2 linked regions of the Homo sapiens genome follow. The protein of the gene in region 2 purifies or fractionates together with the protein of the main gene of each other region. This does not show direct contact. Each region holds a gene or a part of one and is shown on either strand. Other genes may lie near its edges.

Evidence for each region. Proteins that work in one complex are often made in the same cells at the same time.
Region 1: the proteins of POLR3B (region 2) and POLR3C fractionate together in Homo sapiens (co-fractionation; 4 studies listed by BioGRID and IntAct, with this or other methods). This does not show direct contact.

What each region holds. Positions count from the first base shown.
Region 1 is NC_000001.11:145,841,194-145,844,948, reverse strand, and holds the end of POLR3C (DNA-directed RNA polymerase III subunit RPC3), read right to left. Parts: intron 2,611-3,755; coding exon 2,529-2,610; 3' UTR 547-2,528; downstream 1-546. UniProt on the Homo sapiens protein: DNA-dependent RNA polymerase catalyzes the transcription of DNA into RNA using the four ribonucleoside triphosphates as substrates.
Region 2 is NC_000012.12:106,455,125-106,458,779, reverse strand, and holds part of POLR3B (DNA-directed RNA polymerase III subunit RPC2), read right to left. Parts: intron 1,643-3,655; coding exon 1,484-1,642; intron 1-1,483. UniProt on the Homo sapiens protein: Catalytic core component of RNA polymerase III (Pol III), a DNA-dependent RNA polymerase which synthesizes small non-coding RNAs using the four ribonucleoside triphosphates as substrates.

The sequences.
Region 1 (3,755 bases), on a different chromosome or scaffold from region 2:
TTCCGAAGTAGTAGCTGGGATTACAGGGCGCCCACCACCACGCGCGGCCTTTTTTTTTTTTTGAGACGGAGTCTCGCTCTGTCACCCAGGCTGGAGTGCAGTGGCGCCATCTCAGCTCACTGCAACCTCCACCTCCCTGGTTCAAGCGCTTCTCCCGTCTCAGCCTCCTGAGTAGCTGTGATTACAGATGTGCACTACCCACACCTGGCTAATTTTTAAATTTTTTTGTAACGATGAAATCTCACTGTTGCCCAGGCTGTTCTTGAACTCCTGGCTTCAACTGATCCTCCCAGTGTGTTGGGATTACAGGATTTAGGCACCATCAAAATTATCTTCTAGCTGTTTTGAAATGTACAGTAAATTAATAACTATGCCACCCTGATCTATCCAACACCAGTCTTACTTCTTCAAACTGTATTATCTGTGCCCACTAATCAACCTCTCTTCATCCTCCCCATCCTTCCTAGCCTCTGGTAACTACCAATCTATTCTTTATTTTCTTGAGATCCACTTTTTTAGCTCCTATGTGAGACAGAACATGCAATATTTGTTTCTGTGCTTGGTTTATTTTACTTAACATAATGACCTCCAATTCCATCCATGTTGCTGCCAATGACAGGATTTCATTCATTCTTATGGCTGAATAATACATTTTCTTTAGCCTTTCATCTATTGATGGGCACTTAGGTTGATTCCATGTTTTGGCTATCGTGAATACTGCTGCAATAAACATGGGAGTGCAGGTATCTTTTTGATACATTGATTTCTTTCCTTTTGGAGATATATATATACCCAGTAGTGGAACTGCTGGAGCATAGTTCTGTTTTTAGTTTTTTGAGGAACCTCTGTAGTCTTCCACAGTGGCTGTACCAATTTACATTCCCAACAGTGTACCAGGCAGGGCTCTCCTTTTTCCACATCCTCACTAGCATTCATTCTTTCTTCTTGATAAAAGTAATGAATTGGGGTGAGATGTTATCTCATTGATTTTGATTTCCATTTCTCTGATTAGTGATGTTGAACATTTTTTGATGTATCTGTCGGCCATTTGTGTATCTTCTTTCGAAAACTACCTATTAAGATCTTTTGGCCATTTTTAAGTTGGATTGTTCTTTTTGCTATTGTTTGAGCTCCTTATATATTCTGGTTACGAATCCCTTGTTAAGATAGTTTGCAAATAAAGCATCCTCATCTTTCAAACTATACATTGTCACTCTCTGTGTTCCCTTCCCTGCCTGACCCTTTTCCCTTTCTGGCCTCTCTGTACATAGTGTTTACTCTTCTACTGTAGCACCCCTAATACTTCCTGGTACTTATGTACTTATTTGTCTCCTCCTACTAGACTGTATGCTCAAAATTTATTAATCTTTATATCCCCAAGGCTTACCCCAGTACTTAGCACAAAACAGGTGCTTAGTAAATGATGGTGACTGGCTTGAGGGCAGAGATGGTGTCTTATTTATCTATCCTTGTATGTTGTGTTTAGTATGGTGGCTGGCAATTGTTTGACACTCAAGTGTTTAAACAATTAGAAAACACATTGGTGAGAGAAAACTGAAGATATTATAAAACATCTAACTGCTTTAAATGAATTAAAGCTGCTGGGACAAATTATATCCGTGATACTGAGAGAGAGAATTTAGCGTTGCCAGTTTTAAGGAACCATGGAGAAGAGGAAGGCGCTAATTTACTGTGTGCTTACCATATGCCAGGCATTGAGCTAGCTGTTCTACATACACAGTTTCAGATGTGTTAGAAGCCTGGAGCTGGCAAATGTGGCTTCAGTCCACAGATTCTAGTGTGACTGCTTGGGACAATCCACCTGCTAACCCTGAAAATAATTTTTTCTTCTACTCTGTGATAGTCTTTCACATTCCCTACACTGTGTGTGTTAAAAATTACAGTTCATCAGCCTGGGCAACACAGGGAGGCCCTGTCTCTACAAAAAAATAAATAAATAAATAAAAAATAGCTGGGTATGTGTGGTGCATGCCTGTAGTCCCAGCTACTCCAGAGGCTGAGGTGGAAGGACTGCTTGAGCTCAGGAGGTCAAGGCTGTAGGGAGCTGTGATTGCGCTATTACACCCCAGCCTGAGTGACAGAGTGAGATCCTGTCTCAACAACAACAAATTATCTATCTATCTATCTATCTATCACCTATCTCAACAAAATAAAGAACAGGCATAGACATCTGAAAATAAAATTAACTTCTTAGGAAGTTTCCTATTGCCAGGGATATAGGTAACCATAGGTGTGGGTAACTTCTTTATGGGAACAGATGCATCTGATAGATGATTAACCTTGTTGATTTAAGGTTCTTCCCACTGCCAAGATTTGATGAGGGGAGACTACAGCAATGGATCTAAATATGCCAAATTCTTTCAGGTGTATCCTGGGCTGCAGGGGATAGAGAGGGGGGTTTAGTTGAAGACTCTGCGACTTATCCCACTGCAAATAATGCATCCAGGCACCTCCTTTATTTTGCTTTCCATCCCCCCAGATCTTCTGAGGAAGATGCTTCTTCTGGATCACTGTCTCTTCATGGTGCACTCAATGTAAGACTCCAGCAGGAAGATGGTTTCGTCCACCTGGATCTCACTGGCATCCAACCTGAGTGAAAAGTAAAGGCATTTGCCTAGACTGAATGTTCATTAGCATATTTAAGATTAGAGGTTAGGGTGGGTGTGGCCATGGATAACTGCTTGGTTACCCTTGAGAGTGGATGGAAAGAAAGCAGGAGAACCAGTAGATCATTTTGCTATTTACCGAGCATCTTTATGTGCCAGACACCATGCAAACTGCTAAGAATACAAAATACAGAGCCTCTGTCCTGGGGGAAGGTAGTCTTCATTTGCAATCAGGAAAACGAACGTAAAGGCACAGGTATAAAAGGACCTAGTGTGTTTTAAAATAGCAAGAAACTAAGAGTGTCTGAAGCTTAAAGTGAGTGGTGATTAGGAAGAAATGGAAGCTTCTTCAGCCTGACAAAAGCCATCTAGGAAAAACCCACAGCTAACATCATACTTAATGGTGAAAGACTAAAAGCTTTTCTCCTAAGATCAGAAACAAAACAAAGATGTCTGCTTTTGTACTTCTATTCAACCTTTTACTGGAGGTTCTAGCCAGGGTAATGGGGCAGGAAAAAAAAAAAGTAAAGGCATCTAGATTGAAAAGACAGAAGTAAAACTCTCTCTATTCATGGATGACATAATCCTATTATAAAAAATCTCAAAGAATCTGCAAAAAAACTACTAGAATTAATAAATGAATTTAGTAAAGTTGTGGGATACAAAATCACAACACCAAAGTTGGTTGTTTTTGTATAACACTAGCAATGAACAATCTAAAACTGAAATAAGCGACCACTAAACTAGTATCCAAAAAAATACTTAAGAAATAAATTTAATGAAAGAGGTGCACAAATTGTGCACTGAAATGTGAAGGTCTAGGAAAGAGGTGATGAAGGCCTGCGTGTGGACCAAGATGAAAGGCCAGATTTGAGACACATGACTCAAGTAAAATTAAGCCAGCGCAGTGGCACTTGCCTGTAGTCCCAGCTACTTGGGAGGCTGAGGCAGGAAGACTGTTTGAACCTACGAGTTCAAGGCCAGTCTGGGCAACACAGCCAAAACCCCGTCTCTTAAAAAAAATTTATCAGTACTTGATGAACAAGAGAGTGTATATGGTGATGGAGAAGAAGCTCAGAACATCTTCAGAATTGCTAGTTTACAAAAATAGGTGGATTAAATTCTGTT
Region 2 (3,655 bases):
AAAGACCAACTACCTGTAGTACTGTCACAGCGCGTATTTTCCAAGCCATACTGACCAGTGTTAGGGTGAGAAAAATTCTCCAAGAAACAAAGGCAGAGGGAGGGAGGAGAAGTCGCGTACTCTGTGTCTCTTTGGAACCACAGCTTGATAAAGCATTCACCGCCCACAGGCCAACCATGACAAAGTCATGTGGATTTCCCTCCTCACAAACTGGGTTCTCTCCACCTTCACCACAGCTCCTGGTACCAGGTCTACCTTCTATTTTAGTGCCCTTCTAATCCTTTTTCTACACTGTAGTCAGAATGATCATTCAAAACACATATCTGAATATATCATTGCTTTTAGGATCATAATGAAAATAGTATCATGGGCTCGGCATGGTGGCTCAAGCACTTTGGGAAGCCGAGGTGGGTGGAGAACTTGAGCCCAGGAGTTCAAGACAAGCCTGGACAAGATGGTAAGACCTCATCTCTACAAAAAATACAAAAAACTATCCAGGCATGGTGGCACGTGCCTATGGGTCCCAGCTATACAGGAGGTTGAAGTGGGAGAATCACTTGAGTCTGGGAGGCAGAGGTTGCAGTGAGCTGAGATTGTGCCACTGCACTCCAGCCTCAGTGACAGACTGAGACCCTGTCTCAAAAATAAAATTAATAAAATAAAATAAAGACAATACTAACATGGTTGCAAGGACTTGCTTACTCTGGCCCCTACCCCTTGCGTCACCCACCAACTCATGTGCACCATGCTTCCCTGCACTCTCTTCTTGTTAGCCACGCTGGTCTTCTTTCAGACCTTTCAACTACCAAGCTCTGGGACCCTTGCACAAGCTTTTCTCATTACTTAGAACATGCTCCCTGATCCTCTTCTTTAGTTAACTCTTCCCTATCCTTCAGATTCCAGCTCACTTCCTCGGGAAAGCCATGCTGATCTTCCCAACAAGGTCAAATTCTCTTGCTATAAAATGGCCTCATAGTTACCTATATGATTCCTTAACCTGGATTTATGCATGATCCTCTGATCAATGTCAGTCTCCTGCACTAGCCTGTGAGACCCATAAGGGCAAGGGCTATTTGTTTCATCAACAAAATGCATTACAAGTTTGTAATTATAATGGAGTCATACCTTTGCAGGGGGATAAAATTCTAAAGTAGTCTGTAAGCTAAATGTGTAAATGAAGAAATACCAGTGCAGATGCAGGGACATAAACTACTCTAAATATTTCCTTAAAGTGGCTTTTCTATTATTCAAAATTATAACTAGAAAATTATAGTTAGCATAGATTACTGATAGGTAAAAACATAGTGTATAGAAAAACAGACTGGAAGGAAATTCATCAAAAATGACCTCATTGGTTGAGTTTGGATGGTGGTTTTATAGGTTGTTACTTTTTTCTGCCCTTTTTGCCAAATATTCAGAAATATTATTGAATAACATATGATGTCAAAAAGTATTAAAATTTTTTCTTTTAAAAGGCTTTTACCTGGAGAACAAATACCATCTGCATCTAAGATTTCATGTCGCCAGATAGGTTTCCTTGTAGCAGCATCCAACATGGGCCCCATCACTTTATCAAAAGTCTGATTGGTGTATCGTTTCAACGTACATTTAGCATTTTTATATACAAGGCAACGCCCAAAGCCTAAAATGAAACCAAGATGGGCATTAGAACCACCAGTAACCCAAAGCTATAAGGAAATATGGATTTGTGCTACTCAACAATCCACTCCACCTCACCCTCCCCCAAATCCCAAAACTTCTCTGTATTTGATAATAATCTGGGACCAGTACAAACCAAATAAAAATCTGATAATCTGAAGAAGCAGCACAGGACTTGTCCCCTACCTACTGTCTGTGTAAACACTGGAATCTCTACAACCATTTTCTGCATGGAATACACCTTGTCATACTGGAGAACGGTGAGAGAAATCTAAGACTGGCGCTGTGATTCTTTCAGAGGACAGAGCCATAGAATATTAGAATTGGAAAGGCCCTTAGAAATCACCTGCTTAACCTATCTGTTTTACAGGCACTAGGAGTGAGGTCTAGAGAAATTAAGTGGCCAAGGTCATCCAAAAAGTTGGCAGCAGAGTTGAGAATTGTGTTGAACAGCACAAGTCCACTGACTCCTGAGCCAGGATACACATCCTTTTGGTGCATAACTTCTGCTAAACTTCCCTGGAAAGTTTTCCTTTTTAAAATTTGGCATTTAGAGCAAGTTCTAAGCCAACAAGTAAAAACAATAATTTTTCTCCAGAGAAGAGACAGAATGAAAAAAGAAATAATCAAATTATTTCAATGGGAAAAATAGTTCTCCTCTGCCCTAAAGATTGGAGTTTAATTACATTTTTAGATTGCATTTATCTAGTGGATGAGGGAAAGGCTGTGAAATCAACTAACAATCTAAACATCAAGAAAAATAAGCTGTCTAGCAATGGATCAGAAAAGAAAAGGAAGAAAAATAAGCAAAAAGGACAGAAGAAAAACCTTTGGGTGGGGCAAAAAAACTCAACCACTGAATCCCTAAAAGAAAAAATCCATGAGTTGTAGAGTTACCCAAAACAGCTGTCATTCCTTCAACACTATAATTTCCTGATTCTGTGGCTGCATTTCTTTCTTTTTTCCCTTTGGCCAAGCAGTTATTTTAAACTGGATTCTCTTACTAATCTCCTCAGGATATACTGAGCCATGCCAGAGTTCACTTAAATAAGAAATGTCTCAGGATTAAATGCCGCTTATTACTGATGAAATAAATGCATGGCAGTAAAATCCTTCACTTAACAATTTTCCACCAAAAACAGAAATCTAAGAATGTGACTTTAGAAATCAATCAGGTAAAAGTGGATTTATAAATAAAATCTCAGGGCTGTAATGTAATTTTTTAAATATGAAGGTGACTGTGAGATGAAGTAACGAATTTCTAAAATTGGACGTCAGATGAAGACATTTGTGTCTTTAAGCAAGGCCGTAGTCATCATGGCTCCTAGGAAATTGTGTATGGCCATAATAAACTCGGCTCAGAATGCCAGCTGGTTTGGAAACATTACATGATCTTGAAATTTCATACAGTAGCCATTAACTGCAACATGCTGGAGTGCAATGTGAATCTTAACTGCATGAAATCAAGAAGTGTTTTCTTCAAAGTGTAAACAGACATTTTATTTACAGGTGATAGCTTAAAAGCTAGGGGATAGTAAACTCAGATCACTGAATTGGGTTGCAGAGTTTCTGACAGACATCACAAAGTCTTCAGATTTCCACATAAACGTTACCAGTTAATCAGAAAGGAAAACATCTAGTTTTAAAGCATGGCTGTTGTCATTTGGAGGAAAAAAAGAGGCATAAATTAAGTGTGGCCAACATTAATGCCAAAGACACATGTCTAGGAGTACTATTATGGCTGCCTAGCAACTACAAAGAGGGAAGGGGAAGGCATAGTGGGTACGCCAGGAAGGAAAAAGAGAAATCGAGATTATGAATAGAGAAGTCAGACTTCAGATCAGGTGATGTCTAACAAACCACGAGGTGGTGACTTGTGAAAGTATTGTCAAAAACAGAAAGAAAAGCAGAAAAACTCCACGCCAGAGTTTGTGGCCGTGTATTTTTAACTTTCGTCACTTGGCCAAAGAAGTTACCAAATTATGAGGTTACACAA